Homo sapiens: one gene and its partner. The protein of the gene in region 1 interacts with the protein of each later gene in a biochemical or structural test. Each region holds a gene or a part of one and is shown on either strand. Other genes may lie near its edges.

Region 1 (7,294 bases):
TCCTGGAAGAAGGGGAAAAAAGAGACCCTTTGGGCTTCTGGAGCTAGCCCTGAACCAAAAAACTCCCTAATCAACCTGACTTAGGTAAAACCTTTACTGAGCTGGGAATCTGGTTCAGTCTGGGATTGTCAGGGACTATTTCAGGGCAACAGAAGGGGACTGGCTTTTCTTGTCATAGGTCACAAAGGCAGAGAGAACCACACCAGCATCACCAAGATGGCCAGGAGTGGAAAATGCAGACATTGAGCCTAAAACAAGAAGCCATTTCCTTGGGAGCACTGTGATGGGGGCCGCGCTCACTCACTATATGCCCAAAGCCTCTGGCCTGGGTGGCTGCTGTTCAGTTGAGAGTGTAACCAGCTCCTGTTTTCCCTGCCAGGGCTTGAGTCCTGTGAGAACCTTGGGAAGAGAGAAGAGATAATGGGTAGTTTTAGGGGATAGAATACCCCTTCCTCCTACCAAATGTAAGAGAAATCCACCCCCGCAACAAGATCTTCTCAAACTGTTTTGTGCTCTGAAGTGTCTAAAGATAGGGGAGCTTTTCAGCCTATTCTAGACCCAGCTCCTTCTCAGAGGAAAAGAGAGGGAGCTGGCCAGGGACTACTCCCATGCCCCCTCAAGAAGAGCAGAGAGAGTTTCTACCCCATCATTCCACAAAGTCAGAACAGCTAGAACGGAGGCTGAAGAGACTGAGAGCAGCTGCAGAAATCCAAAAATATTGACCTTATAAGCTCAAGATGCTGTATGCTGGGTTTTTACAAGGATATTCGGTATTTGATGAAACCCAGTTAGGCATGACATATTCCCCTTCTCCCCATTCCTACCTCTCTTTTATTAAAAATTTTATAGTTACAGTGTCTATGTTGCCCAGCCTGGTCTTGAACCCTTTGGCTCAAGTGATCCACCTGCCTTGGCCTCCCAAAGTGCTGGGATTACAGATGGGAGCCATCGTGTCTGGCCCATTCCTGCCTCTTAAAGCCCTCCACCCAACAGGCAGACTTGAGACTCAAACCGTGGTCCCAGCTCTGCATCAGGGGTAGTTTGGAATTCAGATTCTTTCAAACTGGGGTAAAAACCAGGCCCAGAGTTCAGAGTTCAACAACAAGCTTCCAAGATGCCGCCCAAAGGAAAAAGTGGTTCTGGAAAAGCGGGGAAAGGGGGTGCAGCCTCTGGGAGTGACAGTGCTGACAAGAAGGCTCAAGGTCCCAAAGGTGGTGGCAATGCAGTAAAGGTCAGACACATTCTATGGGAAAAACATGGCAAAATCATGGAAGCCATGGAAAAGTTAAAGTCTGGGATGAGATTCAATGAAGTGGCCACACAATATAGTGAAGATAAAGCCAGGCAAGGGGGCGTCTTGGGTTGGATGACCAGAGGGTCCATGGTGGGACCATTTCAAGAAGCAGCATTTGCCTTGCCTATAAGTGTGATGGATAAGCCTGTGTTTACAGACCCAGCAGTTAAGACAAAATTTGGATATCATATTATTATGGTTGAAGGAAGAAAATAAAATCATATGAAAGACTGAAAGAAAAAAAAAAAAAAAAAAAAAAACTAGGCCCAGGACACCAAAGGCAAGAAAGGCAGAATCTTTAACAAATTAGGGGCTGGGTGCGGTGGCTCACACCTATAATCCCAGCACTTTGGGAGGCCAGGAGTTCTAGACCAGCCTGGCCAAAATGGCAAAACCCCGTCTCTACTCAAAATAAAAAAATTAGCTGGGTGTGGTGGCAGACACCTGTATTCCCAGCTACTCAGAAGGCTGAGACACAAGAATCGCTGGAACCCGGGAGGCAGAAGTTGTAGTGAGCTGAGATTGCACCACTGCATTCCAACCTGGGCGACAGAGTAAGACTCCATCTCAAAACACACACAAACTAGGCCAAAACCGTAAGCAAAAAGCAAAGAAAAACTCTTCTAAAATGGCCACTGTGATTTCTGTGCCTTCTCTTGTTTCATACATACATATATATATATATATATATATATATATATTTTTTTTTTTTTTTTGAGACAGTCTTTCTCTGTTGCTCAGGTTGGAATGCAGTGGTGTGATCTTGGTTTACTGCAGCTTTGACCTCCCAGGCTCAAGCAATCTGCCCCCCTACAAAGTAGCTGGGACAACAGGCATGCACTACCACACCTGGCTTCCTCCTCGCCCCGAGGCAGAGTCTTGCTCTGTCACCCAGGCTGGAGTGCAGTGGCACGATCTCTGCTAACTATAACCTCTGCCTCCCAAGTTCAAGCAGTTCTCCTGCCTCCCCTCCTGAGTAGCTGGGATTACAGATGCCCGCCACCACACGTGGCTGATTTTTGTATTTTTAGTACAGACGGGGTTTCACCATGTTGGCCAGGCTGGTCTCGAACTCCTTACCTCATGATCCGCCCGCCTTGGCCTCCCAAAGTGCTGGGATTACAGGCATGAGGCACCACGCCCAGCCTTTTTCTTTTTTTTAAGATGGAATCTTACTCACTCTGTTGCCGAGGATGGAGTGTAATAGTGCGATCTCAGCTCACTGCAACCTCCGCCTCCCGGGTTCAAGCGATTCTCCTGCCTCAGCCCACCAAGTAACTGGGATTACAGGCATGTGCCACCAGGCCCGGCTGATTTTTGTATTTTTAGTTGAGATGGGGTTTCACCACGTTGGCCAGGCTGGTCTGGAACTCCTGACCTCAAGCGATCCACCCATCTCGGCCTCCCAAAGTGCTGAGATGACAGGTGTAAGCCACCATACCCGGCCTGTCGTCTTCTCGATATATCAAAATAGAGTGCAGTGGCTACTGCTGCTGGTCATGTGGGTGTGCAGAATGGTACCCAATAAAACACAATGGGTGCTACTGGAAAGCAAAGGGTGCATTGGGACACAGCCTACTCATGTTCCTTTTGCCTTTCTAGGCCTAGAGTCCTTACGGGACAGTGCCCATTCCACACCAGTGCGTTCCACTTCCCATGGGGACACCTTCCTGCCTCACGTGAGAAGCAGCCGGACAGATAGCAATGAGCGAGTAGCTGTGATTGCAGACGAGGCCTACAGCCCTGCAGACAGCGTGCTGCCCACCCCTGTGGCTGAGCACAGCCTGGAGCTGATGTTGCTTTCCCGGCAGATCAATGGAGCCACCTGCAGCATTGAGGAGGAGAAGGAATCTGAAGCCAGCACCCCAACTGCTACAGAGGTGGAGGCCCTTGGGGGAGAGCTGAGGGCCCTGTGTCAGGGGCACAGCGGGCCCGAGGAGGAACAGGTGAATAAGTTTGTTCTAAGTGTCCTCCGTTTGCTCCTTGTGACCATGGGACTCCTCTTTGTTTTGCTCCTCCTCCTGATCATCCTTACCGAGTCTGACCTTGACATTGCCTTTTTCCGTGATATCCGCCAGACCCCCGAGTTTGAACAATTCCACTATCAATACTTTTGTCCCCTCAGGCGATGGTTTGCCTGCAAAATCCGCTCAGTGGTGAGCCTGCTCATTGACACCTGAGAAGGCATGACTCCTCCCAAAAACTAGCCAGGTGGACCAAGGAACCCGGCTACCCATTCCCAGCAATGGGACCCATCGCGGAACCATCGGCACATATACCAAGTCCTCCTCTCATGACTCAAAGTCCACTGCAGCCTAGGAGGGTGTTTCCCAGAAGAAGAAAGGGATAGGCTCATGCCCTGTCTAAACAAACTGGGAAAACTCATTTTCTTCAGAAGTTATTTCAAGAAAGGCTCAGCGACTCTGTTTCTCATCTTTCCAATTTGCAGGATAATTTTTGGTTTTGAATTTTGATTTTTCATAGATGTATATTATTTTGAAGTATCAAATAAAAATAATTTATTTTACTATTACTGATTATTGCAGTAGTATCACCTAGCAGAGGGGACACTAGTTGAAAACTAGAGAGCTGCTGTCCTCTGTATTCTGCAGGAGCTTTTCCTGCTGGTGCCACTGGGTTCCAGTAGACTCATCACTGCAGCCTCAGCAGGGCAGGCCAGGGATCTGGACAATGGGGACTGTTTAGTTTTTTGTTTGTTTTTTTTGCCAGCCAGAACTTTTAAAAAAGTAAACATCCATGTAGAATGATTAAATGGAAAGTTGCTTCTTATGATGGTCTGAGTTGGATTTTCTTTTCCTTTTGTTTTTTCAAATCTGAGCAGAGTGGGCATCTGAAGGGACCACCGCTACAGCAACAGCAGCATCAGGGGTGGGGTAAGTCTGTCCCCTTAGTCTAGAGCCTAGTGGGCATCACCATAGTTTTGTATAATGAAACTAGACTTAACGTGATTTTTTTTTTCCGAAGAACCTCAAGACTTTTATAGTGCTCCAGGGGCGTTAAACGAATTCAGTGGTACCAGAGATAGATAGTTCTGTCAGAAATGTTGGACAAAGTGTAGTTAAGAGAAAGCAGAGTTAAGTTACCTGAGAGACTGTTGAGATTTGGATAGCAGTGCTTATTTTATATACACCCCCTTGACCCAAAGACTATTTCAATTTATATTTTAACAACGAAATGTTATTTTCTTAACAATTCATATTTTGTTTTTACTTTATGGATTAAGAAAATAGAGCCTGATGAACTAAACGATGCAAGAAAGAAACTGATCCTGAGAATGAAAAGCTTCAGAAAATAGAATTCCAAGATCAACAGCCTTAGAAGGGACCAGGAAAAGAATCTTTTAAAATAGATTTCTAAGAGATGCCTACAAAACACAGAATGTGACCGTGGCAGAGACCAACACTTAGATGTAGAAATGCTGCCCCCTAGGGTCATCCTCTGCATAAGTTCTAGGAAAGCATCACCATCCTTGCAGAGGGAAGTCCTCGAAGCACGCAGCACAGGCATATGAAGGGCGAGTGTGGGATCCTAGGCCCAAGCTCTTCAACTCTAAAACCAATCACACACAAGATCCTGTTTTCATCTCAGGGAGAGATTTCTAAGTCATCTGGGGCTTGAGGGCTTATTTAAGGGTGGTCAATGGACATATTCCTGGACCCACACAAAAGTAGAGCAGCTGCTGATACCCTAATTGGACAGCCCCAAACGCAGAACAGAACAAGTCACTTGTAGACTTGACCTCCCCTATTTTGTCCCCCGAGATGGTAGAACCATGTCCATGTTTACAATATGACAACTGTGGAATAATTGGGGTTCTTAGGGAGAGATTTGCATAATTTTAAAGACATCCTTTCATCTGGACCAGAGGTCAATCAACTTATGTCAAGTGCTACACAGTAAATATTTTGGTTTAGCACGCCATACTGTGTCACAACTGCTCAATTCTGCCATCACAGCACAAAAACAGCCACAGATAATTTGTAAATGAAGGAACATGGCTGTGTTCCAATAAAACTTTATGAAAACAGTGAGCTGAATTTAGCCTACAGGCCATAATACGCCAATCCTGCTCTAGACAATAAAACTGATCCTTACCAGTATGTTAGCAGAAGAGGGTCAGTCAGCTCTGTTTCCATGCCTGACATGTATCAAAGATCTGGGACCTCTTCCCAGTGGAGGCACTAGGGTTGCTTGTTTAAAGGGTGCTTGAACAACTAACCAGCAAAGAGATGTCTGATGCCAAATGGGCAAGATCAAATACTGGAATGCTAAAACACAGCTGGAATCTAAGAAGGGAAGAGGGCTTCTCTGACCATTTTCATACCAGCAACAATTTAGGCAGAATTATAAACATCTATTTATCGAGTGACAATACAAACCGAAGGAGATCCTAGTAGAGATTAGGGGTCAGTTAAAATCAACTAGCCACTGCCACTTGTCATCTACATAGCAAAGGCTTTATTTAGCACAGGACTAACGTGAAAAGTAGACCCAGAGATGAAAAGGCTGTCAGGAGACAGGGGGCTGGTGTCCACCTGGTATCTACTGTCTTATGCAACATAGAAGATTACCTTTTAGTGTAGTGCTCCTACCTCAGTTTGTAGAATCTGGTGTTTCTATGCAGTGAGTGATAGCCTCAACTCTGACCTTTCATATTCACATTAGAGACAGATGCAGTATTCCATATCCTAGTATGTTCCTTGTGTCTAGAGTTCTAACAGTACAGTAGTCTATGCCATTTCTAACAGCTAAATTTTGCTCTGTAAACAGAAACTTTAGGGTTGTTTTTTTCCAGGGCTCATCCCAGAAAATATGGATAGAAAAGTTTCCTTCAGTTTGCTTTTCAAATAGTGCTTGAATAATAAACCTCCTTTGATTGGTGACTAGTCTTTTTTGGTATATCTCCACCTTTAAAAATTGTTCAAGTTTTTAACCTGGTTATACTGTGTTCTAACATGTCTCTCATTTTCTCTCAAAATTAGTTTATCTCATTGTAGAAAAAGCAATGGTTTTCATAGCTTCATCTATCAGGAAATAAAACTCTTACTAAAGAATAGCATACTGCATCTTTAAGCAGTAGAGGGTAAACTACCTGCAAATGTGAATTTCTTAGATACATTTAAAAATATATAGTTGTTAACCTTCTGTGTGCCAAAAACTCTTAAGTTACATTTTCCTTCAAAGCAATGTACTTTTTTCTACATATGCAGTATGTAGTTAGCATAAAATCATTGGTGCCATGAAGATTATTTTTAAACTTAAATAAATATTTAAATATCATGGAAGAGTGGGCTCTTTCTTTAATAATAGCCTGTCTTACTTTTCCTCCCTTAAAGTTACTAACACATAGATAAAAGGATACTGGTGGGATTTACACAGCTGACTACTATTCACTTGGATCATATAACATAATTATTTTGCTTGTATCCACCTATTATCCTTGTCCTTACCCCCAGATAAATACTGTTAGAAACTGAGAAGCGGCCAGGCACAGTGGCTCACGCCTGTAATCCCAGCCCTTTGGGAGGCCAAGTCGGGAGGATCACGAGGTCAGGAGTTCAAGACCAGCCCGACCAACGTGGTGAAACCCCCGTCTCTACTAAAAATACAAAAATTAGCCAGGTGTGGTGGCGGGCGCCTATAATTCCAGCTACTCAGGAGGCTAAGGTAGGAGAATCGCTTGAACCTGGGAGGCGGAGGTTGCAGTGAGCTGAGATCACACCACTACACTCCAGCCTGGGTGACAGAGCAAGACTCCACATCAAAAAAAAAAAAAAAAAAAAAAACTGAGAAGCTATATATGTAATAATTTTAAAGTGAATTGGGTATTTTTCTGATGAGGAAAACCAAGAAGACTAAGTGATTTTCCCAAGATTACATAGTGGTAGAGTCCAAACTAGAACCCAGATTGTCCACCTTCTGGTCTGCTGTTCTTACTCAAGCCTGGAGTAAGTGGGAGCACAGAAAATACTTTCTAAG
Region 2 (4,212 bases), on another chromosome or scaffold:
GGCAATGGGAGTTATAGAAGGATAGGGCCCTGTCCCTGGGGAGGGTCTCATCTTGGAGGAGCACAGACGTGAAAGTAACCACAGAACATACCTACCCTGCACAGCCAAAGGCAGCAAGGAGCTGCTGTGTTCTGCAGGGAGGGTGCAGGGCATCTAGACCACCAGGGCTGGGCAGGGTATCACTCAAGTCAGGGAGCATCCAGCTCCACACACAGCCTGGGCGGGGCCACTGCTGCTTCCCAGCATGGATTCCAAGGACAACGGAGCACTGGGTTCAACATTCCTGCTGCTCCCATGCTCAGCTCCCAGCACCACTGAAGAGGTCAAGCTTTAATCCAAATACCAACATTCTGCCTCTGCTTGGACCCAGGGACCAATAGCCTTTGCCTTGGAGTAACTGGAATATCTGATATCACCCCTTACATTCTTCTTGGGGGTAGGGAGGCAGGGGTGGAGCAGAAAAAGATTTGCTCTCTTCAATCGACAGCACTGCAAACTATTTTTCCAAATTGAGCCCAACCACATAATGTGCCTTCCTGAGGCCAGAGGCAGAGAGAAGTGTGGTACCAGCCTAGGATGCACGCCTGTAAGAATGAGGCTTTGTTTCCAATGCTGTGTCTGAGGTTCTTTGAAAACAAGCACATTTACTCCAAGGGACACCACGCTAAAGGCTTACAAATGTTGGCCCCCAGCCCAGACCTTGTGGAAGTGGCTTCATGTGGCTTCATGGTACCTCCTGCCTGCCCAGTCTGCTCCTGAAACCATGTACACGAAAGCTGAGCGGGTCCAGCATCCTGCAATGGAGACTGGGCCAGGCGGGATGTGGGTGCTGCCCATGAGGGGAAAGGCAGCCCTGCCCCAGGGCCCTCATCTAGACTTTGCCACACTTGCTGTGTGACTTTAGAACAGTCACTGTCCCTTTTGAATCTTTCATTTTTTGTACATTGGGGAAACCCTCCTGAGGATCTAAGGGAGAGCCGAGGAGAAGGCCTTTGGAAGGGGTGCAACTTTCATCTCAGAAATGCCTGCAGTTGCGTGAGAGGGGCATGGTGATGCTAGTGGCTTTGCTTACCATGCTTCTGGTCCCCCCAGAGTGTGGAAACACCCCCAACGCCATGACCATCCTCCTGGCTGTGGTCGGTAGCATCCTCCTTGTTGGGCTTGCACTCCTGGCTATCTGGAAGCTGCTTGTCACCATCCACGACCGGAGGGAGTTTGCAAAGTTTCAGAGCGAGCGATCCAGGGCCCGCTATGAAATGGTAAGCACGTGGGAAATGGGAAGCAGAGGAGACTTCAAGCTCAGAGGCGTGGTTGAGTTCAGCGGTATGTTAGCAATAGAGGCTCACTAATGTCTTTGGCATTAAAAACAAAAGAATCAACACCAGAAACGCTGTGCCCAGTTCTGGAGAGAGAGAATTGCACAGCCCCAGTGCAGAGTGAGCTGCACAGATCCCTGTTCCAGACCCAGGTCAGGAAGGTCATGGGGGCAGAGGCGCTGGGCGTGCCTCAGGAAGAGTCTGACCAGTCTCAGAGAGAGCACAGACCAACAGGAAAGCTCAGATTCTTATGGTCCATTACAACACTCACACCTGCAGTCTGGTCACCCCAGGCAGACTGCAAATGCCCAGAGGACTGAGCGCAGTCAGTTTCTGCTGAACCTGGGCTTGGTTTCTGTTAAAGCTGGAAGGGACTTCAGAGACCTTCTGACCCAACTCCTCCTTCCAGAGGTGGATAGTGAAAGCTTAGAGAAGGCGATGGCTTTCCTGGGGAACACAGAGCTGTCCTAGAGCCCACGGCCGTCTCCTCCTGAGTGCTCTGCCTGCTGCTGTCGCAGGGGGCTGACCTGGGAAGGGATCCTAGGGCCTGCGTCTGTCGGTTTGAGTGTGTGAGCTAACATGTGTCCTCATCCTCTTCCCCGCCGTGTTCTGTAGGCTTCAAATCCATTATACAGAAAGCCTATCTCCACGCACACTGTGGACTTCACCTTCAACAAGTTCAACAAATCCTACAATGGCACTGTGGACTGATGTTTCCTTCTCCGAGGGGCTGGAGCGGGGATCTGATGAAAAGGTCAGACTGAAACGCCTTGCACGGCTGCTCGGCTTGATCACAGCTCCCTAGGTAGGCACCACAGAGAAGACCTTCTAGTGAGCCTGGGCCAGGAGCCCACAGTGCCTGTACAGGAAGGTGCCTGGCCATGTCACCTGGCTGCTAGGCCAGAGCCATGCCAGGCTGCGTCCCTCCGAGCTTGGGATAAAGCAAGGGGACCTTGGCGCTCTCAGCTTTCCCTGCCACATCCAGCTTGTTGTCCCAATGAAATACTGAGATGCTGGGCTGTCTCTCCCTTCCAGGAATGCTGGGCCCCCAGCCTGGCCAGACAAGAAGACTGTCAGGAAGGGTCGGAGTCTGTAAAACCAGCATACAGTTTGGCTTTTTTCACATTGATCATTTTTATATGAAATAAAAAGATCCTGCATTTATGGTGTAGTTCTGAGTCCTGAGACTTTTCTGCGTGATGGCTATGCCTTGCACACAGGTGTTGGTGATGGGGCTGTTGAGATGCCTGTTGAAGGTACATCGTTTGCAAATGTCAGTTTCCTCTCCTGTCCGTGTTTGTTTAGTACTTTTATAATGAAAAGAAACAAGATTGTTTGGGATTGGAAGTAAAGATTAAAACCAAAAGAATTTGTGTTTGTCTGATACTCTCTGTGTGTTTCTTTCTTTCTGAGCGGACTTAAAATGGTGCCCCCAGTGGGGATTGAAGCGGCCGTGTACTTCCTCAGGGATGGGACACAGGCTGGTCTGATACTCCAGACTGCAGCTTGTCAAGTAAGCATGAGGTGCTCGGGGCAGTGAGGGCTGTGCAAGGGGGAACACTGAGCAGATACCTTTGGCCCCTTCCAGCTTTTACTGACAGAGAGTTCCAGGCTAGACACCATAAAAACCACCCCTTGTTCTGAGGGGCTGAGGCTGGAAATAGATTGTACAGACAAGCAAGGGTTGAGTGGTGGTTCCCACACGAAGTCATCTCTTAATCATCATTAGCAATAGCAGTTCCCTTCCAAGGCCTCCCCTCACTCCCGAAACACTTACGTCCCATGCAGGCCCAATGCAAAAAAACACATTTGAGCTTTTTTCCCGCAGGGCCATGAAGTCCCCTTAAGTTCCCATATCTAAGATGGTTGACTGACCCTCTCCCCTTATGTACAGAAGAGGAAACTGATTCTCAGAGAGGGGAAGTGGCTTGCCCGAGTGTTTGTTAGGAGGTTACTGAATGACAAACTGTTCCTAAGACCCCATCTCATGCTGGCCAGAGGGCCAGCCTCCTCATTCCTGCTTGCTCTTAGAAAATCTTTCACTGATCATTTTTTGTCACTGGAATAACTTCAAGGTTATTATGCTTTCATTCCAAATGGATCTGTCCTCAGCTCTGGACCCAATTCCCCTTACTTCATTTTGGCAAACACTAAGTCAAATAGTGAAATGCCTGTCACTACATAGAACCTATTACCTGGGGCAAATACGAACAGATTGAGTTTCCTTCATCTTGTGTAAATATGATGAAACAGAGACCTGGTAACTTGGTGACACTGTTAAACCCTTTTTGGGATAAAGCCAAATGTAAATGAAAACATTAAACAGATAAATTGTGGTGTTGAGACTTTTCTGAATTGAGAAAAATAAATGTAATTTTGGAAGAAACTTTGGGTTTCTCTCATGTTTAATTTTGGGTTTCCTGGAGACAAATCATTAACTGGCTCAGAATCTCATTTTCTCTAAGGGCACGACATTCTTTTTTTTTTTTTTTAAGAGAGGATCTCACTGGGTCACTCAGGCTGGAGTGCAGAGGTGCAATCTCAGTTCTCTGCAGCCTCAATCTCCTGGTCTCCCGTGATCCTCCCAACTCAGCCTCCTAAGTAGCTGGGACTACAGGTGTGCACCATCACACCCAGATAATACTTTATTTTTTGCAGAGACAAGGTCTCACTATGTTGCCCAGGCTGGTTGGTCTACAACTCCCAAGCTCAAGCGATCCTCCCACCTTGGCCTCCCAAAGTGTTAGGATTACATACGTCAGCCACCGCGCCTGGCCTGGGCACAACATTCTTGAGCCACAGATAGCAAAGGAGGATTTGTTCTAGTTCCACTTGACGTGGAAAGTGAGGGTGTTTTCGTCTGACGCCGAGGGATGTTACGGAACCAGTGCTCACG

What was found.
Region 2: the proteins of FRMD5 (region 1) and ITGB5 form a complex in vitro, tested with the Homo sapiens proteins (one study listed by IntAct).

What each region holds. Positions count from the first base shown.
Region 1 is NC_000015.10:43,870,065-43,877,358, reverse strand, and holds the end of FRMD5 (FERM domain-containing protein 5), read left to right. Parts: exon of another isoform or gene 1-1,553; intron 1,554-2,896; coding exon 2,897-3,474; 3' UTR 3,475-4,136; coding exon of another isoform or gene 4,137-4,211; 3' UTR 4,212-4,538; coding exon of another isoform or gene 4,539-4,552; 3' UTR 4,553-6,595; downstream 6,596-7,294. UniProt on the Homo sapiens protein: May be involved in regulation of cell migration. May regulate cell-matrix interactions via its interaction with ITGB5 and modifying ITGB5 cytoplasmic tail interactions such as with FERMT2 and TLN1.
Region 2 is NC_000003.12:124,761,438-124,765,649, reverse strand, and holds the end of ITGB5 (integrin beta-5 isoform a precursor), read left to right. Parts: intron 1-1,092; coding exon 1,093-1,259; intron 1,260-1,931; coding exon 1,932-2,027; 3' UTR 2,028-3,702; downstream 3,703-4,212.